Linked DNA regions of Homo sapiens. The protein of the gene in region 4 purifies or fractionates together with the protein of the main gene of each other region. This does not show direct contact. Each region holds a gene or a part of one and is shown on either strand. Other genes may lie near its edges. The genes, in order: TMEM18, RRP1, SETD1A, CHST5, DIPK1A, ALG9 and CSGALNACT2.

Evidence for each region.
Region 1: the proteins of CHST5 (region 4) and TMEM18 purify together in Homo sapiens (affinity purification with mass spectrometry; one large-scale study listed by BioGRID and IntAct). This does not show direct contact.
Region 2: the proteins of CHST5 (region 4) and RRP1 purify together in Homo sapiens (affinity purification with mass spectrometry; one large-scale study listed by BioGRID and IntAct). This does not show direct contact.
Region 3: the proteins of CHST5 (region 4) and SETD1A purify together in Homo sapiens (affinity purification with mass spectrometry; one large-scale study listed by BioGRID and IntAct). This does not show direct contact.
Region 5: the proteins of CHST5 (region 4) and DIPK1A purify together in Homo sapiens (affinity purification with mass spectrometry; one large-scale study listed by BioGRID and IntAct). This does not show direct contact.
Region 6: the proteins of CHST5 (region 4) and ALG9 purify together in Homo sapiens (affinity purification with mass spectrometry; one large-scale study listed by BioGRID and IntAct). This does not show direct contact.
Region 7: the proteins of CHST5 (region 4) and CSGALNACT2 purify together in Homo sapiens (affinity purification with mass spectrometry; one large-scale study listed by BioGRID and IntAct). This does not show direct contact.

What each region holds. Positions count from the first base shown.
Region 1 is NC_000002.12:670,683-674,939, forward strand, and holds part of TMEM18 (transmembrane protein 18), read right to left. Parts: intron 2,181-4,257; coding exon 2,126-2,180; intron 1-2,125.
Region 2 is NC_000021.9:43,795,577-43,799,833, forward strand, and holds part of RRP1 (ribosomal RNA processing protein 1 homolog A), read left to right. Parts: intron 1-1,845; coding exon 1,846-1,975; intron 1,976-2,054; coding exon 2,055-2,119; intron 2,120-2,330; coding exon 2,331-2,524; intron 2,525-3,993; coding exon 3,994-4,073; intron 4,074-4,257. UniProt on the Homo sapiens protein: Plays a critical role in the generation of 28S rRNA.
Region 3 is NC_000016.10:30,959,997-30,964,253, forward strand, and holds part of SETD1A (histone-lysine N-methyltransferase SETD1A), read left to right. Parts: intron 1-1,270; coding exon 1,271-1,541; intron 1,542-3,436; coding exon 3,437-3,558; intron 3,559-4,097; coding exon 4,098-4,257. UniProt on the Homo sapiens protein: Histone methyltransferase that catalyzes methyl group transfer from S-adenosyl-L-methionine to the epsilon-amino group of 'Lys-4' of histone H3 (H3K4) via a non-processive mechanism.
Region 4 is NC_000016.10:75,529,813-75,533,108, reverse strand, and holds part of CHST5 (carbohydrate sulfotransferase 5), read left to right. Parts: 5' UTR 1-20; intron 21-1,468; 5' UTR 1,469-2,724; coding exon 2,725-3,296. UniProt on the Homo sapiens protein: Sulfotransferase that utilizes 3'-phospho-5'-adenylyl sulfate (PAPS) as sulfonate donor to catalyze the transfer of sulfate to position 6 of non-reducing N-acetylglucosamine (GlcNAc) residues and O-linked sugars of mucin-type acceptors.
Region 5 is NC_000001.11:92,846,101-92,850,357, reverse strand, and holds part of DIPK1A (divergent protein kinase domain 1A), read left to right. Parts: intron 1-2,998; coding exon 2,999-3,175; intron 3,176-4,175; exon of another isoform or gene 4,176-4,257.
Region 6 is NC_000011.10:111,833,137-111,837,393, reverse strand, and holds part of ALG9 (alpha-1,2-mannosyltransferase ALG9), read left to right. Parts: intron 1-1,099; coding exon 1,100-1,229; intron 1,230-4,257. UniProt on the Homo sapiens protein: Mannosyltransferase that operates in the biosynthetic pathway of dolichol-linked oligosaccharides, the glycan precursors employed in protein asparagine (N)-glycosylation.
Region 7 is NC_000010.11:43,176,106-43,180,362, reverse strand, and holds part of CSGALNACT2 (chondroitin sulfate N-acetylgalactosaminyltransferase 2), read right to left. Parts: intron 1-4,257. UniProt on the Homo sapiens protein: Transfers 1,4-N-acetylgalactosamine (GalNAc) from UDP-GalNAc to the non-reducing end of glucuronic acid (GlcUA). Required for addition of the first GalNAc to the core tetrasaccharide linker and for elongation of chondroitin chains.

The DNA.
Region 1 (4,257 bases), on a different chromosome or scaffold from region 4:
GTGCTGCTACAGAGAAATGTGAAGCCTGTCGGGGGTGAGGGGGCCTCGTGGAGTCGTAGGCACAGCCATGAACGGCTGGGACAGAGCTGGCAGGAGGCCGCAGGGCATCACTGCAGGACTCCGCGTTTACTCTGGGGGAGCTGGGGACACTCTGGAACGTTCTGAGGGGCAGTGCTTGGCTCTGAGGCCCACGCTTCCCCAGGATGCCCAAGAGGCTGGGCAGTCGGGGGACGGCTTAGGGACCGCTGCATGTCAGCAGCGGGTCGGCGAGGGTGGGGTGAAGGGCATGGAACACACTGGGCTCGTGGCTGATCTTAAAGGTGGAGGGACGGAGCTTCCTGAACAATGCCCTGTTACGTCTCTGGTCTAAGAAGCTGGAGGGAGAAGCCGCCCCTACGAAGAGGGGGGAGCAGAGCAGTCGGACTGAAGTGTGAATTTTGAGATGTTTGTTAGACGTCCTGGTGCCCAGTCCAACAGGTGGGACAGGCAAGAAACCCAGCGCTTTTGAAACCAGGAGATCTCGGAGAAGCATGAAGACAGGAGGCTGCGGCCAGAGGGAAGGGAGGGGCCAGAAAGGTGCTGCACCCTGGAGCTGGGTGTGGGAGGGCTTCGGGGAGGATGACCCTGTGCCAGCCTCTGGACAAGGTCAGGGTCACCAGGGACTGAACACCCCTCCTGGGACTGAACCATGTGAAGGCCCTGCATCCGGGAGGAGAGGCAGGGTCCTCCTGGGACTGAACCATGTGAAGGCCCTGCATCCGGGAGGAGAGGCAGGGTCCTCCTGGGACTGAACCATGTGAAGGCCCTGCATCCGGGAGGAGAGGCAGGGTCCTCCTGGGACTGAACCATGTGAAGGCCCTGCATCCGGGAGGAGAGGCAGGGTCCTCCTGGGACTGAACCATGTGAAGGCCCTGCATCCGGGAGGAGAGGCAGGGTCCTCCTGGGACTGAACCATGTGAAGGCCCTGCATCCGGGAGGAGAGGCAGGGTCCTCCTGGGACTGAACCATGTGAAGGCCCTGCATCCGGGAGGAGAGGCAGGGTCCTCCTGGGACTGAACCATGTGAAGGCCCTGCATCCGGGAGGAGAGGCAGGGTCCTCCTGGGACTGAACCATGTGAAGGCCCTGCATCCGGGAGGAGAGGCAGGGTCCTCCTGGGACTGAACCATGTGAAGGCCCTGCATCCGGGAGGAGAGGCAGGGTCCCCAGTGAGCCGCTTATGGCTAAAGAGAGGGCAGGGAGGAGGGAGGGCAGAGACAGTGCTGCAGGGACGCTGTCGTGGAGGGAAAGGCTGAGCAGGGAGGAGCAAGGCAGGAGGAGGCCGAGTCAGGGGAGGGTTCGGGAAACCAGGCGGGGTCTAAGCAAAGGATTTCAGGGAGTGCTCAACAACCCCTTTCGGTGAGGGCCCAAGATCAGTGTTCAGGGCTTATGGGCCACAAGGCCACAGTCTCAGCTCCTTCCTGCTCAGGGTCTGGCAGTTTTACTTTTTTTCTGTTTTATATTTTAAAACGTAAAAGCCATTTTTAGCTCACAGGCCACTCAAAAACAGTCCGTGGGTCTCACTTGACAGAGGCTGTGTGGTTCAACCTGGGCAGGTGCTGGGTTCCGAGTCCCCTGGGATGAAGCCAGGGGTAGAGGAGGGGGCAGAGGACGCAGGGCCAGGGCTGCCAGCGGTGCCCCCCGACATCAGGATGTGGGGCTGGGGATGAGGCAGGCAGGTGCCCCAGACCACCCAGAAGCCCCCTACTCAGGTCCAGACTCCCCATGGAGCAGCCACCCTGCAGTCCAAGGGGGAGGGCATGGCTGAGGCCAGCGCGGACCACGTTCTCTAAAATGCTGCTGTTTCTATTCTGCAGCTCAAATTCCCATGGCCACTTCTCTGGCTCTGCCATCAGAGGCCTCAGCCAGCACTGTCCCACAGTGCCACGCTCAGAAAGGGCCACTGTGGCGCTGGTAAAGCATTTACGGAGTCACCCTGGAGCCCACCAACCCTGGATGCACGGGCACGGGCTGTGCACAGCTGCCACGTTAGGATTCACTGTCTCCTCCGCGAGTCCCACCGGCTGTGGGGCCATTCCCAGGGACACCCCTGCAGGGACCTGGTCACAGGCCCGGGGGTGGGCTCACCTCCAGTTCATCGCAGCCGCCTCATTGATGTATTCAGCACAGTAGACTAAGATGACTGAAAAAAGGTACAAGTCATATTAGAATTTAGATGGCCCGTTATTACTCGTTATAAAGTTATACATTCTTTACAGCAGAATACTGAATAGAAATGTCACTTTAATTTTAAACATAACATCAGGTAAACATCCTAACATTGTCAAGTCGTAGGACTCACCCATTTAGCAGAAAGAAAATCAAGGCCAACAGTGCTTCAGTTCTCCAATGCTCTATGGTCTCACTCAGAGCCCGTGCTCAGGTCAGCACCTGCAGAGCTACTGCAGGAGCCGCCCGAGGCCCCAGGCTTCACCCAGGCATGGCTGGACCTCACACATTTCCCCAGGGACAGCAGCCACAGTTCAGCCCCACAGAACACGGCAGCAGGAGCTGAGAGCCACGAGACCCAGAGCTGACAACCAAGGGCTTTTCACGCTCACACTTCCCGGGCTGACCTTGGGACACTGCCACTGAGATGACCATAGGAGGGGAGCGAACAGCTTTGGGGTGCTGGAGGCAAAGGCACGGGAGGGAGGGCAGCAGCTGGTGGGGGCAGGGCAAGGCCTCCATGCTCCCAGGAGCACACAGACTTTAGGGACTGGCCCAGGGTCTTCAGCTAATTCGTGGGTAATGCTGGTACTCAAACCCATGAGACAGTGACCCATGGTACCATAAAATCAAATAAAATATGATTCGGCAAATTAAGAAAAATGTGATGCTTCAACTTCCAAGGTAAATCAAACTAAAAATCCTTTCATTCTTCTTGATACACATCAGAAAGCAGATTAAACTAGGGGCTACGGTGAGCAGTCCCTCCACTTCCTCCCTTCAGGAATGGACTCAATAAAGCAGAGGAAAAGAATGCACAGGGAAAGAACCAGAGGGGAGGGGAGGGAGGAGGAGGAGGAGGAGGGGGAGGATGGGGGGGAAGGAGAGGAAGGAGGGGAAGGAGGAGGGCCAGGAGAAGCAGGACAGCCAGGCAGGTGAGAAGGGTAGGCTAACACAGGAGGTGGTGGGCATGGGTGCGGGGAGGAAGGTGTGGAGGGCTGACGTTACAGGGGGAAGGTGGGGAGGGTGGTAGGCACGGGAGGAAGGCGGGCAGGGAGGGTGTCACCAGGTGCTCCTCCTCAGCTATTCCTGAAATGCACCCTGGAGCAGAGTCTGAATCTTGAATCTTGATGGTGCTGGTTATAAGCTGTATAGCTGAGGGAGTTAGAGAACCTCTGCATGTTTCATTTATAAAAATGGGCAAATAAAATCCAACTCTTGGCTGGTTTGAGAAATGAATCACAGGAAATGTAATGGCAGGCAGCACAGTGTCTAGTATTACCCCGGTGTGAAAGCAGTCATCCTTCCCCTTATCCTAGAAAACATCAAACCCTTTGTGCAGTTCTCCAGCTGACAAAGCTATTCAGATCCAGGAGCTCAGCTGGTGAAGCCATCACCTTTCTTTGAGATGCCTGCCTCAGGGCCTCTGCGTGGGGCACTTGCTCCTGCCCTCTGCCAGCATCTCACTGCCTGGCTCCTGCCTATGCACCTTTTGCCCCTGGGTTCCCAGGGGACTGTGTGATTTAAATCAGGCCGCTCCTCCTGTTTCACTGTGTTTTTGGCTTTTCCATTGCAACACTTGTCACTGTTGATAACACAGGTCTGTGATGAATCACTGGTGCTGGTGTCCCCCAGGAAGCTGTGGGAGGCAAAGGAGCCCTGTCTGCCTGGTCCACTCCAGCACTCCTCAGGGCACCCTCAATACAGAGCTTGCTCTGAGCGCCTCACTTGCATAGGCCCCCACTGTGATGCAAACCCTCATCACTTCTCCAGTCTTTCTAAGATCATCTCTTCTTCAGATTTCCCGCTTTGCACACAGCCAGCTAACTAAACTTATCTGAAATTAGTTATTTTTAACTACCAAGCAAAATCTTCAGTGTCTCCCCAATGTTGAGAGTCAAGAGTAGCCTGAGCCAGGCCTCCAGGCCCTCCTCGCCTCTTCTACCCACACGTGTTCGTAACGCTCAGCATCAGAAGTGCTTAGGTCCTGGAGGGCTTGCAGTTTCTCTGCCTCTGATCCACACCTTCCATCTATCTCAGTCTCTGCATGT
Region 2 (4,257 bases), on a different chromosome or scaffold from region 4:
TGTCACTGTTGCCTAGGCTGGAGTGCAGTGGCGTGATCTTGGCTCAACTACAGCCTTGACCTCCCGGGCTCAAGTGATCCTCCTGCCTCAGCCGCCCAACTGGCTGGGACTGCAGATGTGCACCACCAGGCCCACGTAATTTTTGTATCTTTTTTTGGTAGAGACGAGTTCTGTCCTGTTGCCCAGGCTTGTCTCAAACTCTTGGGCTCAAACAATCTGCCTGCCTAGGCCTCCCAAGTTGTAAGCAATGTTAATTGCTCCTAATTCTAAAAATATGTAAATTGGCTGGGCGCGGTGGCTCACATCTGTAATCCCAGCACTTTGGGAGGCCGAGGCGGGCAGATCACAAGGTCAAGAGATCGAGACCATCCTGGCCACCATGGTGAAACCGTGTCTCTACTAAAAGTACAAAAATTAGATAAATGCATAGAAAAGAATTAGCAGGCTGGTTATGGTGGGTTAAGGGGATCTCTTGAGCCCAGGAGTTTGAGGCTGCAGTGATCTGTGACTGAGCCACTGCACTCTAGCCTAGGTGATAGAGTGAGATTCTGGTTTTTTGTTTTTTTTTTTTAAAGAATCAGCAGGAATTGAACTGTGGCTGCTGAGTTTCTCTAGGTTTGAGTTGCATGGGTGATTTTGCATTTAGGGCAGCGGTGCCTCTGGTTTGGAGGGATTTTCATTCTTCTATTCCCTGGCAGGACTCTGATGCCAGGAGTCTCATTCATTCTGGGCCTTAGCATTGTGGATTACCCCATAGGGGTCTCATGGCTTAAGCTGAATTAAATGTTAAAGGGATGATTTTACTTGTGTTAACTTTTTTTGGCATATTATTACAAGAGTACTTTTCTCCCTGTAACTGAGAATTCAGCACAGGAATCATGTGGAAGACCTCGGTGCCTTCCCCCAATGCCTGCTGCGGTCCCAGTGCTGACAGTGGGGTCCGCTCTTCCCGCCCTCTTGGATCTCCTGCAGGCATAACCAGGCTGTCATTAATATCCACGCCATTGCCACTGGCCTGGGAAGTCGGTCCCTTGCATCTGTGTGTCTTCCTCTTGGTCTCAGCACCTGTTCTTGCCTCTGTCTCGTTTTTCCTGAGCCTTAGAGAGCATCACTTTTCCTTTCCATCACGAGTGATTCTCCAGCCTTGCTACGGAGCTTCCTAAGGATCACACAGTTTACAGATCTGAGTTAGGCAGCTGCGTTATTAAGCACCCCAGGAGGTCCAGATGCATGTAGGTGCTACACATTATTCTCTGGGGCTGTCTAGTCTTCAGATCCAGGGCCTGTGATGCCATCAAACCCGCCTGCCAGGGAGAGCTCTGGTGGACGTCACAGTTGGAATGCGTCGTGCGGCAGGGCCCAGGAAGCCAGCAGGTGGCTCATGGTCCTCGGCCCCTTTCTGGGCCTCCACCTTCCTTTCTCTGCCTGTGCTGTCCTGACGTGTCTTCCCCAGCGGTACCCAGTGGAGGCAGTGGAGAGGAACACCAGGCAGGGCGTCTCGTCTCAGCCAAGCCTTTCTCTCTGCTAGCAATCTTGAGGACAGAGGGAAGGCCTGTCTGAATGTTTACACGTGCTGCATTTTGTAGCTGACATGCACACTCAGGCCATACGTTCTGGTGGTGGTGCTGGTCACATAACTCCCTAACTGCAAGACTGCCTTGCGCTGGAGGAGACCTAGGATCGTTGATATCATCTGCGTGGACTTTAAGGCTGGCATGTTTGCAGACAGTGGCGCCTGCCCGCACTTAGGTTCCCATCAGAGCGTGTAACCATGGGAGAGTGGGGGGCACGGCTGTCTTGGGGCTCATCGAGGCTGCCTGTCATGTTTGCTTTTTCTTTCCTCAGACAGATCGAGGAGCTGCTAGAGCTGCTGATGACTGAGATCCTGCACCCCAGCAGCCAGGCCCCCAACGGTGTGAAGAGCCACTTCATCGAGATCTTCCTGGAGGAGCTGACCAAAGTGGGCGCCGAGGAGGTGAGGCTGGGCTCCGACGGGGCGGTGGAGCTGGGCGTTTGTGGAGGAGGAACTGAGCTCCCGCTGGCTTTCCCCGTAGCTTACGGCAGACCAGAACCTGAAGTTCATCGACCCCTTCTGCAGAATTGCTGCCCGGACCAAGGAGTAAGTGGTGGGTGGCCTGATCGGGCCCGACTCCTTCACTGAGTTCTTCCATGGGGCTGCTGTTGTGGGGGTGCTGCTCCCTCGAGGGATGAATCTGTCTCAGAGTGGCCGCTGGCCGTGTGGGTGGGGAGAGGTTGCAGGGGAGTCGGCGGCTTCCGCTTGGGAATCCAGCATAACGGGCCTGCTCACCGGCCTCTGCTCTGCCCCTCAGTTCCTTGGTTTTGAACAACATCACTCGAGGCATCTTTGAGACGATTGTGGAGCAGGCCCCGCTTGCCATTGAAGACCTCCTGAATGAACTGGACACACAGGATGAGGAGGTGGCGTCGGACAGTGATGAGTCCTCTGAGGGTGGTGAGCGTGGAGACGCGCTGTCCCAGAAGAGGTCTGAGAAGCCGCCCGCAGGTGGGGGTCACACTGCGCCTGGCTTCTCCTCGGGGCCTGTCCTGGGCTGAGCCAGTGCGATCTCCTGCTGGGTTGCTCCTGCCACCTCCTACCTGGTCCCCTTGTCTCTGCCCCTCTCCACAGTCCATCCTCAGCATAGAAGCCAGAGTGACTTCTGTGGGCACCAAGCACACGTCGTTTCCCCTCATCCCCCAGCCTCTGATGTGCTCCACGCCCTCTCCGGACCCCTGGGCTCCTCGGTCTAACGCATGCCTCTGGCTCAGTTGGCCCCCTAGACTCGTTCCTGCCTTGGTGCCGAGTCTCTCCGTCCCTCCCACCGTCTCTCCCCCCATCACTCTCTGGGGCTGGACTCTTTCAGCCTCCTGGCCTCTCCCAGCCCCCAACGCAGTCCTCCCCATAGCGTCACTCTGTGGCACGGGATGTGAATCACTTGCTCCTCGTGTTCCTCGTTCCTGGCCCGTCTCCCCAGAGGACAGCAAGCTCTGTCCATATTGACCATGACTGGGTTCAGGCCTGAGACCTCAGGGCACCTGACTGCTCTGTGTGCAGTGTGTGTGAGGGGCAGGTGTACTCACCTGCCCCTCACTGCCTGCCAGAGGCCTCTGTGGGCAGCCGTGGGGTCCAGCCTGGCCCATTTTTTGTTTTGATGCTGCACTCATTGTCCGAGCCTGCTGGGTGGTCTGAGCTCTAAGTGTGGCATCCTGGTGCTGTGGAGGGCATGTCTTTGACCACGCTCAGGACCCCAGTATGCCCCAAATCAGTGCTGTGGCCACTGTTCCCCTTGGCTTCCTAATCAGAAGACCCCCTCCCCACCGCCCCCAGCACTTGGCCCGGCCACCCTGTATGCTTCTCCCTGGTCTCTGCCTTGCCCTTCTCTCTCAGTAGCTGAGGTGCCTGGCAGGTCCGCTAGTGCCTGCTGCTGGCCCCCTGCTGCCAGCTACAGAGCAGACCCTTGTCACATGCTGCCCCACAGCTGCCTGTTGCCCAAAAACCTTTCTTCTGCAGACAGTGCCATCAAAGCCCCAAATGCCCAGCCTAGCTCGAGCACCCAGCCGAAACATCAGCTCCCACAGCTTCTGGACCAGGCCACCCTGAGGCTCCTCACTTCCAGAACTTTTGACATGGCCTTTGTTGCCCAAGATGCCAGCTTGTAGTCAGCCACTCAGGGCTGTGTAGGCACCTGTGCCCTGGGACATCTTTTTTTCCTTTGCAGGCCTGAGGTGGCACCTCTCATCCTGTCCATACGAGATTAGAGGTCACATGGCACCTAGTATCTGCCTTGAGCTGTGGGCTTTCCCGCCTGTGCCCATGTTCTGACCAGGGTGCAGGGTGGGCTGTCCGTTCCCGGGTGTTTCCCGCCTGTGCCCGTGCTCCGACCAGGGTGCACGGAGCGGGCTCTCCATTCCTGGATGTTTGGGGCCAGCACACGTTGGGCACAGGTAGGGTTCACGGGGTCCCTTTTGTTCCAGGCTCCATCTGCAGGGCTGAACCTGAGGCTGGTGAGGAGCAGGCAGGTGACGACAGGGACAGTGGCGGCCCCGTTCTCCAGGTGGGTTCCCTGGGCTCATGGCTGTGCCCTCAGCCTTTGCCCCTCTGTGCTACCGCTTGCTCTGGAAGAGGAGGGGGGCGTTAGGAGGGAGGATGGCAGCTGTTGGCATGGAGAGTTACCCGGACAGGGGTTAGCTTTGAAGGAGGGATGGGTGCCCCAACCCTGCCCGCCTGTAGACGAGTGG
Region 3 (4,257 bases), about 45 Mb from region 4:
GTACCATCGACTCAGCTGTACAGCCTGGCAGCCTGTGATTCTCTCCTTTTCTCTCTCAGTTGGTCACCGAATCCTCCTGGCTCTTTTCTTTTTTATTCTTCATCTTTCTATTCTCATTGCCACTTAATGTAGACCTTGGTATTCATTTCACCTGGTCTCCTTGCCTTCGTTCTTGCCTCAGTTTCTCCTCTGCCTTGCTGTCATTTGTCTCTTTGGCTTCACTACGCTGCTGTTTTCCTTTTGTTGCCAAGTCCATGTTTTGGGACACTGACATGTATGGTTATTGACCTGGCCAAGCCTTATCCTCCGCCTTGACACCACACCCCTGTGTTACATCCACACCATAACGCTTTGCGGTTTTTCAAAAACACCAAGTTGTTTTATATTTCCATGTTCCAGGGGTCCTTGTCATTTGATGAATTGTTAATCCCCAAATCTCAGTAAGAATGACACCATCTTTATGAATTCTTCCCTGATCATACTCTGTACAAAAGTTTCCTTCCCTGGGCTCCAGAACACCATGTATGCGTCAGCTGCCACTGGGTCGTGTTGTGTTTGTATGTGCATGTCATGCTGCTTTTCTGTATGGGAATCTCTTCCTTTCTATCTCTGTATTTCCAGTGCCTCGTTCATGGTAGTTACCTAGTAAAGGCTGAGCTAGGAAATCATCGCCCTGTAGCTCGTTCTCTCCACGTATATTTATTCCTCAGTGTGTACATTTCTTTCTTTCTTTCTTTTTTTTTTTTTTTTTTTTTTTGAGACGGAGTCTCGCTGTGTTGCCCAGGCTGGAGTGCAGTGGTGTGATCTCGGCTTAGTGCAACCTCTGCCTGCCAGGTTCAAGTGATTCTCCTGCCTCACCCTCCTGAGTAGCTGGGATTACAGGTGCCCACCATCACATCCAGCTAAATTTTTTTTTTTGTATTTTTAGTAGAGACAGGGTTTTATCATGTTGGACAGGCTGGTCTTGAACTCCTGACTTCTGGTGATCCGTCCACCTCATCCTCCCAAAGTGTTGGGATTATAAGTGTGAGCTGCCACACCCGGCCTAGTTTGCACATTTCTGTTCTTAATTCTTGCTGTTATTCTGTGGTGAGAAGAATTCAGGGAAAAGGGGTCAGGTCTGATGGATCCCTTATTTTGGGCCCCTTCCCTTGCCCCTCACTTTCCCGGATCTCTCTCTTGACTTCATGGAGCTTGCTAAAGTTTCCCGAAGGACAAAGGAACAGTGGTCAGTGTTGAGACCCCATACCAACTCCTGTTCTTTCCCCAGCTGGACGAGTTCTATATTGGACAGATTCCACTGAAGGAAGTGACTTTTGCAAGGCTGAATGACAACGTGCGGGAGACCTTCCTGAAGGATATGTGCCGTAAGTACGGTGAGGTGGAAGAGGTAGAGATCCTCCTTCACCCCCGTACGCGCAAGCACCTGGGCCTGGCCCGTGTGCTCTTCACCAGCACTCGGGGCGCCAAGGAAACGGTCAAAAACCTCCACCTTACCTCCGTCATGGGCAACATCATCCATGCCCAGCTTGACATCAAAGGTGAGGACTCCTCTGCCTGCCACTCAGGCTTGGCCTCCAGCGGAGGTTGTACATGCAAATGCCTGTCAGGGTCAGGCAGGCGCCCAGGGTCATGATCTGAAACTGCTGGGGCCAGTTGTGTTTCTGAAATCAGATCAGATTTTAGAGTGGAATTATGGTACATGGATTTTTGTGTGTGTGGTGTCTCCAGCAAGGTCGGGCAATAGGCCATAATCAAGCACATAACTATCTGTAAAAAAAAAAAAAAATCATATGAAGGGTTGTACTAGGTAAGATGAATAGATTGTAGTAAATCAGCCCAGGTCAGGTTGGTTGCTTGGTTGGTTTTTGAGACAGGATCCTGCTCTGTCACCTAGGCTGGAGAGCAGTGGCGTGATCTTTCCTCACTGCAGCCTCCAGCTCCTGGGCTCAGCCACCCCAGCCTCCTGAGTAGCTGGGATTATGGGCATGCACCACCACACCTGGCCAAAGTTTTTTTGATTATTTGCAGAGATGAAGTCTCACTACACTGCCCAGCCTGTTTTTAATTTTTTTTTTTTTTTTTTGAGATGGAATCTCAATCTGTCGCCCAGGCTGGAGTGCAGTGGCACGATCTTGGCTCACTGCAACCTCCACCTCCCAGGTTCAAGTGATTCTTCTGCCTCAGCCTCTTGAGTAGCTAGGATTACATTTATGCGCCACTACGCCCGGCTAATTTTTGTATTTTTAGTAGAGATAGGGTTTCACCCTGTTAGCCAGGCTGGTCTTGAACTCCTGACCTCAAGTGATCTGCCTGCCTCGGCCTCCCAAAGTACTGGTATTACAGGCATGAGCCACCATGCCTGGCCTCTTTTTAATCTTTCTATATGCTATTCTATAACCCATATAGGTTTTGGTGCCAGATTCTCAGAAATACTGGATTTTCTGGGTTTTTAGGTTTGGAAATTTGAGATAGAGAGTAAAGGAGCTGTGAACACAAGCGAGGTGGTCTGGGCTTCTGTGTTGAGTGATGGGGAGCAGTGGGGTCTGTGGCGAGCTGCAGATTGCAGTATTGTCTGGAGGAGGCAGCCATTAGTAGGCACTGGCCAGTTTGCAAGTGGAAATGAGGTTTAACATTCTTGAATTTGGTTTGTAAAAGAAAGCCAGGGCCGGGCATGCGGTGGCTCACGCCTGTAATCCCAAGACTCTGAGAGGCCAAGGTGGGCAGATCACCTGAGGACAGGAGCTCGAGACCAGCCTGGTCAACATGGTGAAACCCCATTTCTATTAAAAATAACAAAAATCCGGACGTGGTGGTTCATGCTTATAATCCCAGCTACTCGAGAGGCTGAGGCATGAGAATCACTTGAACCTGGGAGGTGGAGATTACATCGTGCCACTGCACTCAAGCCAGAAATTTGGGTTTTTGTGTGAAATCTCATGGTTTTTAAATACCATGTTTCTTTCCTCACAAGGTGTTTCTGAGGTGTTCACTCCACAGCTCCTGCAGGCTCCGTTAGTCCCCCGGTTGCTGTTCTGCATGCTTTAGTTTACAGGATAAAGAGCATGGGGTGATCGAGCCTCTGGGTTTGAATTCCAATTTTTCCAATGACCAATTCTGTGACTTTGTGTAGGTCGCTTTTAAGCCTCTAGAACAGAGGTACTGATGCTTCCCTTCTGGTGATCCAACATGGTAAAATAAGTAGAAGTGTTTTTGATAAATCGTGAAGTGTCATAAAATATGTTGTTTGTGGTAGTTTAGAGGTAGAGATAAGGTAGAAGGTCCCAAAGGTAGAGTTATGGTAGGAGAACTGAAATCCTGAAACCCAGATTCCAAGAAATTGTAGGAAACTTGAGGCCTGAGAAAGCAGGAATACCAGATCAGGAAGGAGTTAGTATCTCCATCTGACAATTGGTTCCCATTTCCCTCCCTCCAGGACAACAACGAATGAAATACTATGAACTAATTGTCAATGGCTCCTACACCCCTCAGACTGTGCCCACTGGGGGCAAGGCCCTGAGTGAGAAGTTCCAAGGCTCGGGTGCAGCCACTGAGACGGTGAGAAGTTTGTGGCTACCACAGCCCCTAGCCATGTGGGCATGGTGTCCGGGTGCCCGGAGCAGGAGCAGTCTTCGGGAGGTTCCGGGCTTTCCCGTTAAACAAAGAAGAGCCAAGCAAAGCTGCTGAGATGCTTTCAAAAGACAGGGAACTAGGGGCCAGGCACAGTGGCTCACGCCTGTAATCCCAGCACTTTGGGAGGCCGAGGCGGGTGGATCATGAGGTCAGGTGATTGAAACCATCCTGACTAACACGGTGAAACCCCATCTCTACTAAAACTGCAAAAAATTAGCCAGGCATGGTGGTGGGCGCCTGTAGTCCTAGCTACTTGGGAGGCTGAGGCAGGAGAATGGCATGAACCCGGGAGGCGGAGCTTGCAGTGAGCCGAGATCACGCCACTGGACTCCAGCCTGGGCAATAGAGCGAGACTCCGTCTCAAAAAAAAAAAAAGGGAACTAGGATTCCTGGTTTGGGAAAGGGCAGGTCTCAAGTGGTGTTTGAGCCCATTCCTCTCTCCTTGCCCTGCTCTGTCGCTCTAGGCCGAATCCCGCCGCCGCTCTTCCTCTGACACAGCTGCCTACCCAGCAGGCACCACTGCGGTGGGCACTCCTGGCAACGGCACCCCCTGCTCCCAGGACACAAGCTTCTCCAGCAGCCGACAAGATACCCCATCTTCCTTTGGCCAGTTCACACCTCAGT
Region 4 (3,296 bases):
CTGGCTTTCCTGGAACACAGGTAACAAACACCTTAGCTTGGGATCAAGATCCTCCCTACCCAGGGAAGGGCTGGGCTGGCCAGGACAACTGTGTTTGGGCCAGAGCAGCAGGGTCCTGCACTCTGCAGGGGGCAATCACAGGTGGGAGAGGCCCACAGCCTGGGATCAGAAGTGCCAGGAGCTTCGGAACAGGAGTCCTGGAGTCCCAGCTTTCTTGCTGTCTCTCTAAGCCTTGAGTCTTTCACCTGAAAAATTGACATCATCATGCCCACCTCAGGGCCCAGAGTTAAGTTATCCAGTGGACTCGAAGCACCTAGCACTTGTGATCATTGAAGTCAGCAAATATGAGTTCCCTTCCTTTCTGGCACTCTGTTGGCAAGGGAGCTCACCATCCATCAGCCAGCACTGGAAAAAGTACAGTTGCACTTGTAGCGGAGGTGGGGGGCTACTCTCCTCATCTTCCAGGTTTTCCAGGAGTGGGTGTGGGGATCCAGAAGGCAGCTCGGGAGTCAGCAGGTGACAGAGGTGTTGGGCATCCTCCGCTCACTCCTGTCCCCGCATTGAGGCGAAGGAGCAGAGGTGAGATCTGCTCACAAGTTAGACCCTGGCTTCTCTCAGTGGGCAGTGTGGACAGGGGAAGGGGGCAGGCAAGGAGCAAAGGATGCAGGAGCAAGGAGAAAACTTCCAGGCTCCTCCCTTCCAAAGTCACCCAGCCTTGAGATCATTGCAGATGCAACAGGTGCAAACAGAAGAACACTTTAGGACCTTGGAATGCGGGAGGCTGGCTCAGTGTTCCTTCCACCCTGTGAGAAATGCGTGACATTCTTAAGGTCCACTAAAGGCTCAGGGTGGTTGGACGCCAGAGGATGGCCTGGGAGATACAGGGATTGGAAGGGTAGGTGGCCTGTGGGTGTCTCCTCTGTGGGGAGACTCACCAGGTGGAGGGGGTTCTTTCTCTCCAGATGTAGCTCAGCACAGGGACAGTAACAGTAACAGGGGCATGTGTGTAAGGAATGCTTCCCCAGGCCCTCCCCTCATAGGTGTTTGCAGCAGCATCCATCACAACAGCTCTAAGAGGTTAAATATTGCAAATCCCATTCTACAGAGGTGCAAATTGAGCCTCAGAGAAGTTAAGTCACTTGCCCCAGGTCTCATAGCTCCCCATTGGCAGTGCTGGGATTTGGAGCCAGCTCTCTCGCTTCCATCCATCAGGAGACCCCGCCAGTTCCCAGCCATTTGGAGAAATGCCCTACTCAGACTTATTCAACCTCAGCAAGCCTGGTGGTGGTGTGACATCCGCCTAAACCGTCATCAAGCCCTTTAGCTCCACAACCCAAAAGGGTCTCTCTACGAGTTATCCTGAAGCAAAAGGCAGGCAGGACAGCTCTGTTCCCACCCTGGGGAGCTTTCTATGTACAGGGCTGTCTCTCTGTAGGGCTCTGATCTCCTCTCCTTCCTGCTTTGCCAGATGTCGAGACATCTCCCATGGATTTGTGATCAGCGTTGCAGCTCTCCCAGCAGCCCTGGACGGTGGTGAGTCCCCTCAGCTGGCCAGGACAGTACTCTGCTCTCACCTCTCTGCTTCTTGGGCTCCATCCCAGCTCCCCATCAACTGATCTTCTTGCAAACCCACAGGGCTCCAGGACACCCTCCTTCTGGAGCCCATGCTGCCTACAGCACTTCACTCCCCACCAGTGATGACAACAGTTGCTGTTCTTTGTCCACTTTATTTACTTGTTTATCTTTAATGACAAAAGTTTTTTTTTTGTTGTTTTTTTTTTTTTTTTTGAAACGGAGTCTCACTCTTCACTCAGGCTGCAGTGCAGTGGCGCAATCTCAGCTCACTGCCACCTCTGCCTCCCAGGTTCACGCCATTCTCCTGCCTCAGCCTCCCGAGTAGCTGGGACTACAGGCGCCCACCATCACGCCTGGCTAATTTTTTGTATTTTTAGTAGAGATGGGGTCTCACTGTGTTAGCCAGGATGGTCTCGATCTCCTGACCTCGTGATCCGCCCGCCTCGGCCTCCCATAATGCTGGGATTACAGGCGTGAGCCACCGCGCCTGGCTGACAAAAGTTTTATACCTGCCTGTTAAAAAAATTATATAATACAGAAGCACACCTTGTAAAAGGTGCAATCCTCAGTTATGGGCATGACTGCGTGTTCCCTTCCCCCATCTTCATTATAATAACCCCCCAATCCCCCCAGATCCTGTGAGCCAGGTACCGGAATTATCCCTCTTTCACACACGGGTAAAGTGATCCGTCACAGAGAGATTTAAGTGATCTTCATAAGCAAGATCATAGGCTAGGAAGTGGCAGAGCCAGGATTCAACCTCGGCGAGCCTGGTGGTGCTCTGACATCCACCGAAGCCCCCATCAAGCCCTTTTAGCTCCACAACCTAAAAGGGTCTCTCTAAGAGGTATCCTGAAGCAAAAGACAGGAGTTCTCTTTGAAACATAGTATTTCTCTCTACAGATAGATAGCCTGTAGGTATGTAAGTAGGTGGGTGGGTGGGTAGGTAGACAGTTTGATGATATCCCACATTATTCTGCAACTGGACTTCTGCTGTGAGCACAGACTATATTCTGGCCTATGTCTTGACTCCGTATTCCTGGGAAAGTGCTCGACTGAGACCTTGGGAGTCTTGGGAAGTCCAATGGGTAGGGTAGCCGAATCTGAGGGCTGATCCCTGAGGGCACTGGGCAGTAATTGGGGCATGGGATGGGCATGAGGGCCCGGGTCCCTAAAGTTGCCCACTCCACCCGAAGGCCCCCAGCCGCCCGCATGTGGCTGCCACGGTTCTCCAGCAAGACAGTGACAGTGCTCCTCCTGGCACAGACCACCTGCCTCCTGCTCTTCATCATCTCCCGGCCAGGGCCCTCATCCCCAGCCGGCGGCGAGGATCGTGTGCACGTGCTGGTGCTGTCCTCGTGGCGCTCGGGCTCATCCTTCTTGGGCCAGCTCTTCAGCCAGCACCCCGACGTCTTCTACCTGATGGAGCCCGCGTGGCATGTGTGGACCACCCTGTCGCAGGGCAGCGCGGCAACGCTGCACATGGCCGTGCGCGACCTGATGCGCTCTATCTTTTTGTGCGACATGGACGTGTTTGATGCCTACATGCCACAGAGCCGAAACCTGTCCGCCTTTTTCAACTGGGCAACGAGCCGCGCGCTGTGCTCGCCGCCCGCCTGCAGCGCCTTTCCCCGAGGCACCATCAGCAAGCAGGACGTATGCAAGACACTGTGCACGCGGCAGCCATTCAGCCTGGCCCGGGAGGCCTGCCGCTCCTACAG
Region 5 (4,257 bases), on a different chromosome or scaffold from region 4:
ACACTGTTTTGTTTTGTTTTTTTTTTTCTGTCAGCACTTTGATGTTAGATGCTGTTTCAGTTACCAGGAATACAATGGTGATTAAGGCAACCTGGTGCGGTGGCTCACGCATGTAATCCCAACACTTTGGGAGGCTGAGATGGGAGGACCACTTGCGCCCAGGAGTCTGAGACCAGCCTGGGCAATGTAGTGAGACCCTGTCTCTCCAAAATTTAAAAAAAATGCCAGGTGTGGTGGCACACACCTGTGGTTCTAGCTACTCAGGAGGCTGAAGTGGGAAGATTGCTTGAGCCCAGGAGGTTGAGGCTGCAGTGAGCTATGGTCCCACCACTGCACTCCAGCCTGGGTGACAGAGTGAGTGAGTGTCTCAAAAAATAAAAAATAAAAATAAAAAAATACAAACAGCCGGGCCCGTGGCACGGGCCTGTAATCCCAGCACTTCAGGAGGCCAAGGTGGGTGGATTGCTTTAGTCCAGGAGTTTGAGGCCTACCTGAGCAACATAGCAAAACCCTGTCTCTACAAAAAATACAAAAATTAGCTGGGTGGCCAGGCACAGTGGCATACACCTGTAATCCCAGCACTTTGGGAGGCTGAGGCGGTAGGTCACTTGAGGCCAGGCATTCAAGACCAACCTGAGCAACATTGCGATACCCCCTCTCTACTAAAAACACAAAAAATTAGCCGGGTGTGGTGGCACATGCCTGTAATCCCAGCAACTCCAGAGGCTGAGGCACAAGAATCGCTTGAACCTGGGAGGCGGAGGTTCCAGTGAGCCAAGATCTCACATCACTGCACTCCAGCCTGGACAATAGAGCGAGACTGTCTCAAAAAATATATATGTATTAGCTGGGTGTGGTGGCACACACCTATGGTCCCAGCTACTCGGGAGGCTGAGGTGGGACAATCACTTGAGCCCAGGAGGTCAGGGCTGCAGTGAGCCGTGTTCATGTCACTGCACTCCAGCCTGGGTGACAGAGTGACACCCTGTCTCAAAAAAAAAAAAAAAAACAAAAAAAAACCAGACAAGATTGCTTCCCTTACAGACCTTACATGATTCCAGAGGGACAGGAGGTACAAACAGTTGATAAATAAATAAATAAACAAACAAAATAATTGTAGAATATGGTGTGTTCTGTAGGAGACACAGAGGGCAAATTGATAGAGAATGCAGTGTAAGGGATGGTGAGAAGTGCTTTAGAGGATGTGATCAGAGAAGACCTTTCTGAAATAATATTTGAACTTATACCTTAATAAAAAATTCATAGGCATGGGAAAAGGACAGGATGAACTAAATCACAAAAGAACTGCAAACAGCTGATGAACATAATGAAAAAAAATTCTACCTTACTTTTCATCAGAGAAATAAGAATAAAACAGTAGAATATCTAATTGGGGTAGAAGAAAATACAACGAAACATCTGGAGCAGTGGAAAATTGCATTTTAATGTTCATCTTATGGTTCCTAAATTTTCCTATATAAATATGCATTATTATTATAGAAATTTAAACTAATTTTTCAGTTGACAGTATTAATCATGTTAAAGACAATTTCTAAAACAAAGTCCAACATTTGAGTGTCTCCTGCATGCCAGGCACTGTTTGAGGCACTGAGGGAGACAGATAAAGCCTCTGGCCTCATGTTCTAATGTGAGATGAGACAGATAGTAATGAACTGATAAATAAATAAATATGATAATTTTAGACAGTGCAAAAGGCTATGAGGATAATGAAACAGGGTTAGAGGTGACCTGGGGGTGGAAGAGGATCTCTTCTAGACAGGGGGTCAGGGAAGGCTTTCTAAATGCAATGTCTAATCTGAGACTTGAATGATGTAAAGGAGCCAGCCATGTGAAGATCTGGGAGAGTACATTCCAGGCAGAGCCAGCAGCAAGTGAAGCAGGTCAGGAAGCAGAAACAAGCTTCAACCTGTCACAGAAAGACCAGTGTAGCTGGGACTTTGAGAAACGGAGTACGTGGTACAAGATCAGGTTGGAGACATAGGCGAGGCTAGCTCAAATGGAGCCCAACCGGTCATGGAAAGGACTTTGGACTTTAATTGAAAGGGGAATTTATTAGAGGGTTTGGAGCAAGGCAGTGAAATAATGTTTTCTTTGGATTAATATTAAGAATGAATATGATCTTATTTATTTTTTTATGTAGAAGAGGGGCAACCTATCCTAGTGGTAAAGACCTCAGCTCTTTTCAGCATGTTACTTCACCTGTATCTGCTTCAGTTTCCCCATCAGTGAAATAAGTATAATGATAGTACCTACCACCTAAGATTGGTACAAGGATTAAAATAATAACATAAATCAGTAAAAGCCAGGTGTGGTGCCTCATACCTACAATCCCAGCAACTTGAGAGGCTGAGGCAGGTGGGTCACTTAAGGCTAGCAGTTCAGGACCAGCCTGAGCAATACAGCAAGACCCCATCTCTACAAAAAATGTTTTTAATTAGCCAGGTTTAGTGGTACATGCCTATAGTCCTGGCTACTTGGGAGACTGAGGCAGGAAGATTCCTTGAGCTCAGGACTTTGAGGCTGCAATGAGCTATGATTATGCCACTGAACCCCAGCCTGGGTGACAAAGCAAGACCCTGTCTCTAAAATAAATTAGTAGACCATAGGACATAGTTAACACTATATAATATTAGTTTGATAAATAACTAGATACTTAAATAGTAGTTAATTCTGGGGAAGTGGGATTATGGAAGTAGAATGTCTGGGAACTTTGCTTTTGCCTTACATCCTTCTCATTGGACTTTTTGAAAAATATATTTAGGCATGCATTACTCTTATAATTTAAAAAATTAGTTTAAGGAAAAAATCTTGAGTGTGATTTCAAGTTTGCAGTTCAGAAATAAAGTCACACCTTAACCTCAATGTTTGATGCTTGTTTTGTTTTGTTCAGAGGAGGAGGACCCTAAAAATATAGTAGTATATTTTTTAGAGTTTTCTACTCAGTATAATACATAACTTGCCACTCTTTTTTACATAGATGTATTTAGGGATTTGGGATAATCTACCAGGTGTTGTGAAATGTCAAATGGAACAAGCGCTTCATCTTGATTTTGGAACTGAATTGGAACCAAGAAAAGAAATAGTGCTATTTGATAAGCCAACTAGAGGAACTACTGTACAAAAATTTAAAGAAATGGTCTATAGTCTCTTTAAGGTAAGCATACCCATTCATATGTTGCTAGTGTGAAGTGGGACTCTTTAGAGGAATTGGCAGGACCTCATCCTAAGCCATTAAAGTGTTGATATTCTTTGACCTCTATCAGATTCTCCATCCTGAGGAAATAATTATAAGAGGCCGGGCGTGGTGGCTCACGCCTGTTATCCCAGCACTTTGGGAGGCCAAGGCAGGAGGATCACTTGAGCCCAGGAGTTCAAGTCCAGCCTGGGCAACATAGTAAGACCTCAGCTATATATATATATATATACACGTATATATATATATACGTGTGTGTGTATATATATATATATATATACACACATATATATATACACACATATATATATATATATATATATATATATATATATATATATATATATATATGCCAGGAGTGGTGGCATGTGCCTGTAGTCCTAACTACTTGAGATGCTGAGGTGCGAGGATTGCTTGAGCCTGGGAGGTCGAGGTTGCAGTGAGCCAAGATCTCACCACTGCACTCCAGCCTGGACGACAAAGTGAGACCCTGTTTCAAAAAAAAAAAGAAAAAGAAAAGAAATCTGTGTTGGAGAATGTTTACTTTAACATTATTTATGATAGCTAAAAATGTCCAGATATGAGGAGGGAGTTCATTAATTAATTGGAGTGCTGTACAGTTTGACATGAAAATTAATTCAAAAAAGGTGAAATAAAATGAGTATACTCTTAGAATTGTGGCTATTAGAGGCTGGGAAGGGTACAGAGGAGAGGAGAATAAGGAGAGGTTGGTTAACAGATACAAAATTACCGCTAGATAGGCAGAATAAGTTCTAGTGTTCTATAGCACTATAGGGTAAAGGGATTAATAATTTTTGGTTATTTTCAAAAAACTAAAAGGATTGTGAATGTTCACAACACAATGATAACTGAGACATAAATATGCTAATTACCTTGATTTGATCATTACAAATTGTATGTGTGTATTGAAATATCACTATGTATCCCATGAATTTTTTTTCTGTGTGCTCCCGTTCACAATACAGACAAGGCGCAGGGCCTGGGCTGAGGTGTACATGGGAGTTCACCTCCTCATTCTATAC
Region 6 (4,257 bases), on a different chromosome or scaffold from region 4:
TTTTGTTTTCTTTTGGAGTTTTCACAGAGAGTTATTGAATTATCTACCACGTCGGAGAGCTGTGGGGCCTGTGTACTGTGTACCTGCCTCCTGTGTTCATTAGGCTTATTAGGCTGAGGGCTGGGTCTAGGTAGACATTCTGCACTGCCCATAACTGCAGGTGTCTGGGGACTTCTGAAAATGCCCTGGGTCCTAGGCTTTTGCCAGTGGCTCTTCGTGGGGATTCATATTTACATTTCTATAATGATCTGATGTTAATCCTCTTCTAAAAGTGGTCTAGAAACTCCAGCTAGAAGAGAGAAGACATTCTTGACCCAACAGTAGTGAAAGTTCTCCACCATTATGTGGACACTGGGGAAGGCTGTGGTTAAAATGTCTATACCAGTTTCCTTTATGCTTTCTGTGGTTCTGAGAGCATAGGCCCTAAAGTTCTTTGTAGTTTGCTTCATTTGGCCAGAGAAGAGTCCTGTGTAGGTTAAAGGGAAATCTGGTTAAGATGAGTCATGTTGCTCCATTTGAGAAATGGCTTCAGTAGCTTGGCTTTACTGGGTAGTAGTTTCTTATGCTTCATAAAGACCCTGTGTCAGTCATTAATGATTAAATTAAAACTTGTTTTTTAAGTGTTGACTTTAGCCTTTGCCTTTTACGTTTGAAATAGTTTTATAGATAAAGATATGTTTGAGGGTTACTCCGGAACAAAGTATTTCTCCCATAGTGTGTTCTCAGTGCCATATATTACATTTCATTCTTTTTCTCTACACCTGATAATTTGCTTTATTTGATAAGTCTCTCTGCCCACATAGTAATTGACAATAAGCATTGGCACTTCTCTGGTTTTTTGATGATATGACCATTTGGTTGTGAATTTCACTGCTAACAGTTGGTGAAATGGGTCAAGAGACATCTAATTATAAATTTCTCAATGATTTTGGACTGACTTGTGACCTCTGCCTCTGTGCTCCCTGGTTGAGGTTTTAGCAGAAATATTTTTTCTTCAAGAGAAATGTTTTTCACATGATTTTCCTGGCTTGTTTGTTTCAAGTACATTTAGCAATATTATCCCCCTGTGTTTTTCTTATTCTCCTTGTGTTTCTGACAGTTGGCAGCTTCAGTTCATTCCATCAGAGTTCAGAGGTCAGTTACCAAAACCTTTTGCAGAAGGACCTCTGGCCACCCGGATTGTTCCTACTGACATGAATGACCAGAATCTAGAAGAGCCATCCAGATATGTAAGGGCTACATTCTCTTCTTGCTTCTCTGAAAAGAATTCTATGCCTAAAAGTCTGTTGGTGTGTATATTAGAGCATTGATAAAATGAGAATTTCTTAGAAAGCAATTTTTTTAAGGCCGGGTGCTGTGGCTCACACCTGTAATCCCAGCACTTTGGGAGACGGGCGGGATAATTGCTTGAATTCAGAAGTTCGAGACCAGCCTGGGCAACATAGCAAGATCACATTTCTACAAAAAATTAAAAAATAAGCCAGGTGTGGTGGCTTATGCCTGTAATCCCAGCCTTTCAGAAGGCTGAGGCAGGAGGATCACTTGAGCCTCGGAGTTCAAGGCTGCAGTAGGCCATGATTCCGCTACTGCACTCCAGCCTGGGCAACAGAGTGAGACCCTGTCTCAGAAAAAAACCGGATATTTTTTAGGATGAGGGGTATAACAGCTTTTGTTGAAAAACAGTAAACAGTATCACTTTTATTTTCAAATTAACCTCTTTATTTTCTATGTAAAATGTATAATTTAATTTTGAAGGTTTTGGGTAGGCTGAAAGTTTTCTTACGGTAGAAGTTTGAACCATTATTCTGAAACTCATATCATTCCTTGGCCTATTAAAATCCTTAATGAGGAACTTTCAAGTTATCAGGTGGACCTTTGACCTAGCTATTAGTATATTCCGGTTTTAACAAATGAACAGTAAAGACTGTTTCCATACTGAATGCCAGGGAGCAGCCTCTGTCAGGGCCATGATCTTCTCCCTACTTGTCTTTACACATTCTGAGATCCCATGCGAATTTTACTTCAGTTCCTTTGAAAGATGACACTTTTGACATTTGATACCTGTGAAATCTTTGATAATGAAAAAGGTAAGAAGTAATAAAGATAATGCTCCTTTTGGGTCACAAAGACAGTGTAAGATCGTTGTCTAGAATTATTAGAAAGCACATTTTTTGATAACCTGATAACCTGTCCGTTAAAGAAATATGTAACAGTTTAAATGTCAGCTATATTTAATTTACATTTTCTTATGTCATATGCTTAAAATGTAAAATAGCAAGACTTCCAATTCTCTTCTGAAGCAAACCTGCAGCCACATCTGGTCTTTTGTCTCCCAGATTGGGGCTGGTTAGAGTTCCATGGAGACCCTCAGGGTTTATGAGTGAGATTCTTATTGTATGAGCTGTAACTATAAGCTATGAAAATGGACACTTAAAGACACAGCCTTGAGCTGTTCCCTTGTAAGACAGGCGTTTCTGCCACATGGATTGTATTAGAGCTTTATTCTTTTAATTTAAGGCTCTGATTCCTGTTACAATGGAAATACCCTTGGGCAGGGTAGACTGTTACAGGTCATTTTAATTTTATCTGCAGATATGAGTCTCCTGAGTGCAGGGCATCATTCTAGAGAAGCTGGACAGTCAAAGGGTGGGAAAATACACTGTCATAGGGGGACAGTATGAATTCAGAGTGATGTTATCGGAGCTTTGCTTTAGGAAGAGGTAGTAAAAATGGAGTAGTAAAAAAAAGAGCGTGGACTTTGGAGTTGAGTAGGCCTGCATTCAAACCTCAGCTCTGTTGCTAAACTTGATAACCTTGGGCAAATTAGTTAGCTTCTCTGTTTAATTTCAGTTTCTGTCTGTAAAATGGCACCTACTTTGGAATTATGATATTTGATATTATATCTCTCTGTAGCAAAAATGCAATGTTCTTATGCTTGCACAAGTGTTCTTAATCTGATAATGGTATATTAGACAGATTCCAGGTAAAGAAACCCAATCTCTCCCCTTCCTTCTTTTTATTGTTTCCCATCCTTGTAATTTTATTCCAGTGTCTCCAGACTCATCATTGCGTTTTCCACCCCAGTGACTTCGCTTATATTGGTGACTATGCCTGAACTACCCTTGTGTCTCTTCTCACACTATCAAAATTATCTTCCTCTTTGAAGTGAACTATTTAAGTCCATATTGAGCAGACCTTCCTTTAAGTGTCTTCAGTATTTATCTGTGCAGTTCATTTAGCCATTTAATTTTCTTGGTCTTAGTTAAATATTTCTGATATCATATCTTTCCACATCAAATATGTGAATGCCATGAAGAGAATGACTGCACTTTGTTTCTTTTGTGTTCACCATAGTGTCTAGGACGGTGTCATGTACCCAGTAGTTCACTTTTACATGCTTTCTCAGTGGATAATGAATATTCATCGTCATTGTGGTAATGATGTTGAGAGAAAGCTGGCTAGAAAATCTACAGTGGCCTTTTGCACATTTCTTAGGCTTTTATCACTGGTTGTCTTAGTTAGATCATATTTCCATATTCTCTGCTGTCAGACAGTGTTAAATTTGATTAAATGACTCTATATGAGCTTTACCCGAAAGGTGATGATTTTTCAGGATGCCAGTAGGAGTCACCAAAATGCTGGCTGATAAAAGCAGGGAAAAACAAGTGATTTATGTCTGCTGGGTAGCAGCTGTGTCCAGCCCTTTGAATGCGAGGATTTTTTTGCTTATCTGTGGTGGCAGAATCATGAAAATTAGGCATGGACCTTTAGCTCTGGGTGGCAGGTTTTAGCCAGCCTTTGGCTTCAATGCTAAGTGCTCCAGCCTGTCCCGTTTCTATTGTGCATGGAAACGAGGAAAGTTGTATGACTTTTTTTATTTCACTATTTTCTTTACCTCTGGGCTAATCAAGAATTAGGAGTGAATAAGTGTAAAGGTTCTGTGGTTTGTACTGTACCATTATAACTATATTGCAAAAATAATGTTTTTGCTGCATATTTTTTCATGGTAGGTATTGAGTAGCTATTGAATATCTCATTATTGAACAGGAAGCATTTACAGGGGTACATGCCAAGATTGCCAAGATTTTCTGCCAGAATCAAGATCTAAATTTGGAAGATACATTCAGTGTCACCTCTTTAGTTCTTGAAAAATTCACATTTTTGTTCACTATTTCAAGGTGAATGATACACTTCCAGCTCCAAATCTAGTATATGATTTAGGAGCTACCTAGTCAATGGATGAAACCTTGGAGGAAA
Region 7 (4,257 bases), on a different chromosome or scaffold from region 4:
AGCTTGAGGATATGACAATAAAAATTTCCAAAACAGAAAATCAAAGAAAAAAAAAGACTGAAAATAAAATGAACAAAATATCTAAGAACGGTGGGACAACTACAAAAGATGTAACATATGTATAATGGGAATACCAGGAAGAAAGGAAACAAGGGAACAGAAGCTCCAAATAAAGAGTCTAAGTTCTAAACAGGTGCAGCTCTTTTTCACCCAGCCCACAGCAACAGGGTGGAGGCTCCACTTCCAGGTGTGGCCAGCTGAGAATACTGGGGGTCCTCCTGCCCCTACCCAGTGTCCTGCTCATAGGGCAGAGGTGGTCACTCTGCTTAATAAGTGTGTCACTGTCCCCATCCTCAGGGCAAAACCTCATGGATTTTTTCCCCCGGGGGAGAGGAAGTCCATAAGAACAAAGTGCTCCAAAGTTCTTCCCTAAGGAACTGACTTTATTTAAAATAGAATGTAGAGAAGTTCAGAGTTTAGAGAAGTTCCAGCCTCTTGAAAATAATGGAGATTTTGGTAGTAAGCAATTAAGAGGAGGCTGGTAACTCCAGGAGGGCAACAGCTAAACTGTAGGCCAGCTAATTTACTAGAGAGAACCACAGAGAGAGATAGTAAGAATATACCTCCTGGGGTCTGAACAAATCTCAAAGACTTGCTGCAAAAACTATCCCTGCAAAAGGGCCCAATTTAGTAGGGACAGATTATGGAGCAATTTATGCCCCAGAGCATTGTCAAAAACAAGACAGCAATTAGTGAACAGTCAGTGGAGTCTAATAGGAGTGATACCAATGGAGGCATGGAAAGAGATAAAGAGAGCCCTGCTAAATCCAATGCCATCCTAGGATAACTGCACAGGCCCTGAGGAGCAACAGCAGAGGCTTCATATTGCCAAAAGGTCGGGGAAGGAGGAAGAAATAATTTGTTAAAATAGTCCAGCCATGTCAATAAATAAATAAACAAGGAAAAAAAAAAACCAAGCCGTGGTGGTAGAGGGAAATCAGTATCCAGAGTTGCCACAGTGTATTACCTAAAATGTCTAGTTTTCGAAAAAGAAATAATGAGGAATGCAAAGAAACAAGAAGATGTGACATACGCTTAAAAAAAAAAAAAAAACCGGCAAGCAACAAAAACTGCCTGTGTTAGGGCCCAGACATTAGCTTTAATACACAAAAATTCCAAAGCAGCCATTGTAAGTATGTTCAAAGAATTAAAAGAAGTCACACTTAAGGAAGTAACAGAAGATGACAATGTTTCATCACATAGAGTATTAATAAAGAAATTATATATATATCAAAAGAACCACATAGAAATTCTGAAGTTAAAAACTATAGTAACTGAAATAAAAATTCATTAGAGTAGCTCAACAGTAGATCTAACAGAAAAAACAATCAGAGAACTTGGATAGATCAATAGAAATTATGCAATCTGAAGAACAGAGGGAGAAAAGAATGAAGAGAAATAAACAGAGCCTAAGAAAAATGTGGGATACCATTAAATGTACCAACATACATACAGTGAGTGTCAAAGGAGAAAACTATGAGAATGGAGCAGAAAAAGTATTCAAAGAAATACAGTCAGCCCTCCATATGCATGAGTTCCACATCCCATAGAATCAACCAACATGGTTCAAAAATATTAGGGAAAAAAACGATAAAAAATAACAATAAATATAAAAATTTAAATACAATATAACAACTATTTACATAGTATTTACATTGTATTAGGGTTTTTTTTTTTTTTTTTTGATGGAGTCTCACTCTGTTGCCCAGGCTGGAGTGCAGTGGTGCAATCTCGGCTCACTGCAAACTCCGCCTCCCAGGTTCATGCCATTCTCCTGCCTCAGCCTCCCAAGTAGCTGGGACTACAGGCGCCTGCCACCACGCCTGGCTAATTTTTGTATTTTTAGTAGAGACAGGGTTTTACCTTGTTAGCCAGGATGATCTTGATCTCCTGACCTCGTGATCTGCCCGCCTCGGCCTCCCAAAGTGCTGGGATTACAGGCGTGAGCCACCGTGCCTGGCCTGTATTAGGTATTATAAGCAATCTAGAGATGGTTTAAAGTATATGGGCAGATATGCACAGGTAATATGAAAATATGTATATTTACATAAGGGACTTGATCGACCATGGATTTTGGTTCCACATGGTATCCTGGATCCAATCCCATGCAGGTACTGAGAGATGACTATAATGGCTGAAACTTCCCAAATTTGATGAAAAACATTAATGTACATATTCAAGAAGCCCAAGAAACTCCATAACCCAATTAAAATGGGCAAAGGATCTGAACAGACATTTCACTAAAGATATACAAATGGCCAATAAACACATCAAGAGATGCTCAACAACATTAATCATAAGAAAAATTATAATCAGAGTCACAATCAATACCACATCCACTATCATGGGTGATACTAGAAACAAAAAGATAATAACATGTATTAATGAGGATGTGGGGAAACTGGAACTCCTAAACACTGCTGGTGGGAATGTAAAATGATGCAGCCACTTTGGAAAACGGTGTGGCAATTTCTCAAAAGGTCAAACACAGGATTACCATATGACCCAGCCAGAGTCCTGGGCATATGTCCAAGAGAATTGAAAATCTATGTCCACCCAAAAAGTTAAACACAAATGTTCACAGCAGCAGTATTTATAATAGCCAAAAAGTAGAAACAACTCAAATGCATATAAACTGACAAATGGAGAAACAAAATGTGGTATAACCACACAATAGAACATTTTTTGGCTATAAAAAGGAATGAAGTACCTAACATGTCACAACATGGATGAACTTTGAAAACATTATGTGAGTGAAAGAAGCCAGTCATAAAAGGCCACATATTGTACAATTTGCTTTCTATTAAATTCCCAGAAGAGGCAAATCTATAGGAAGTAGACCAGTAGATGCCTAAGTTTGGGGGGAAAGAGGGTTGGTAGGATGTGAGGAGTGATTGTTAATGGGTATGGGATTTCTTTTTGGGGTGAAATGCTCTAAATTTGATGGTGGTGATAGCTACATGACCTGGTTAACCGTACACTTTAAATTAATAAATTTTATGATATGTAAACTATATCTCAATAAAATTGTCATAAAAAAGAGATAAGGAACTCAAAGCATTCAAGATACTGAAAAAATGTACACAAATCTATTTTTGAGGAATAGTGAAATGCTGCTTGCTTAACTAAGCAAGAAATCAAGGAAAAGAGCATCAGTTTAATTTAACGCCCCTTTTATTGTTATTTCCTGATTTTCCATTATTCAAGTGTTACAATGATAAGGAGACAAGGTGGGGGGATTTCCAAAACAAAAGGCTGGTTATAAAAACGAATGTGATATGGACCTAGAATGTATATAAAATATATTCTATGACTTCTATGCTGTAGAAAGGTAGCTAGCCCTAAATGAATCAGAAGACATGGAATCAGGTTTCAGCCTGCTTTATTAAACTATTCTTTGACACTTTATATTTTGCTGGGTAAGACTGAAGCTAGGGGCTGGGCATGGTGGCTCACGCCTGCAATCCCAGCACTTTGGGAGGCCAAGGTGGGCAGATTGCTTGAACCCAGGAGTTCAAGACCAGCCTAGGCAATATAATGAAGCTCCGCCTCTACAAAACAAACAAAAAAATTAACTGGGTGTGGTGGTGCACGCCTGTGGTCACAGCTACTTGGGGATTGAGGTAGGAGGATCGCTTGAGCCTGGGAGGCAGAGGCTGCAGTGAGCCAAGATTGTGCCACTGCTCTTCAGCCTGGACAACAGAGCATGCAGGATAGTTAGAACAAATTATTCATGGGCCATCTTTAGGCTTAGGGGAATGCATGACTAAGGTGTGATTCCAAGACGCGCTAGAAAGAGCAGGTCTTCTTTCATTTGTATTAAATACTGGGATTTTGTGTAACAGTTCACTAGACAAGTAAAGGAGGTTTCATCTCAAAAAAATGTGAAAGTCCTTGGTCTAGATAACCAAGATTACTCCCAGCTGTAACAACCCATGGGCACAACAGTAAAGTTATAGAGAAAGCTTTTGTAAGACTACTCTAAACACCTGCAACTATGGGTAACAAGTTAAACAGATATTTTTAAAAACAGGTGTTTTGATTTTAAAGGAACAAGTAAATATTATACTTTATTTTTATGACCATTTTTTTCCTATTCAAAACATTAATTATAAACTTATTTTGCCTTTTGTATATCCAGTTTCTCTTTTTAGCTAACCTTAGACACTCATACTTTAGTAGGAAAACACTCAAATC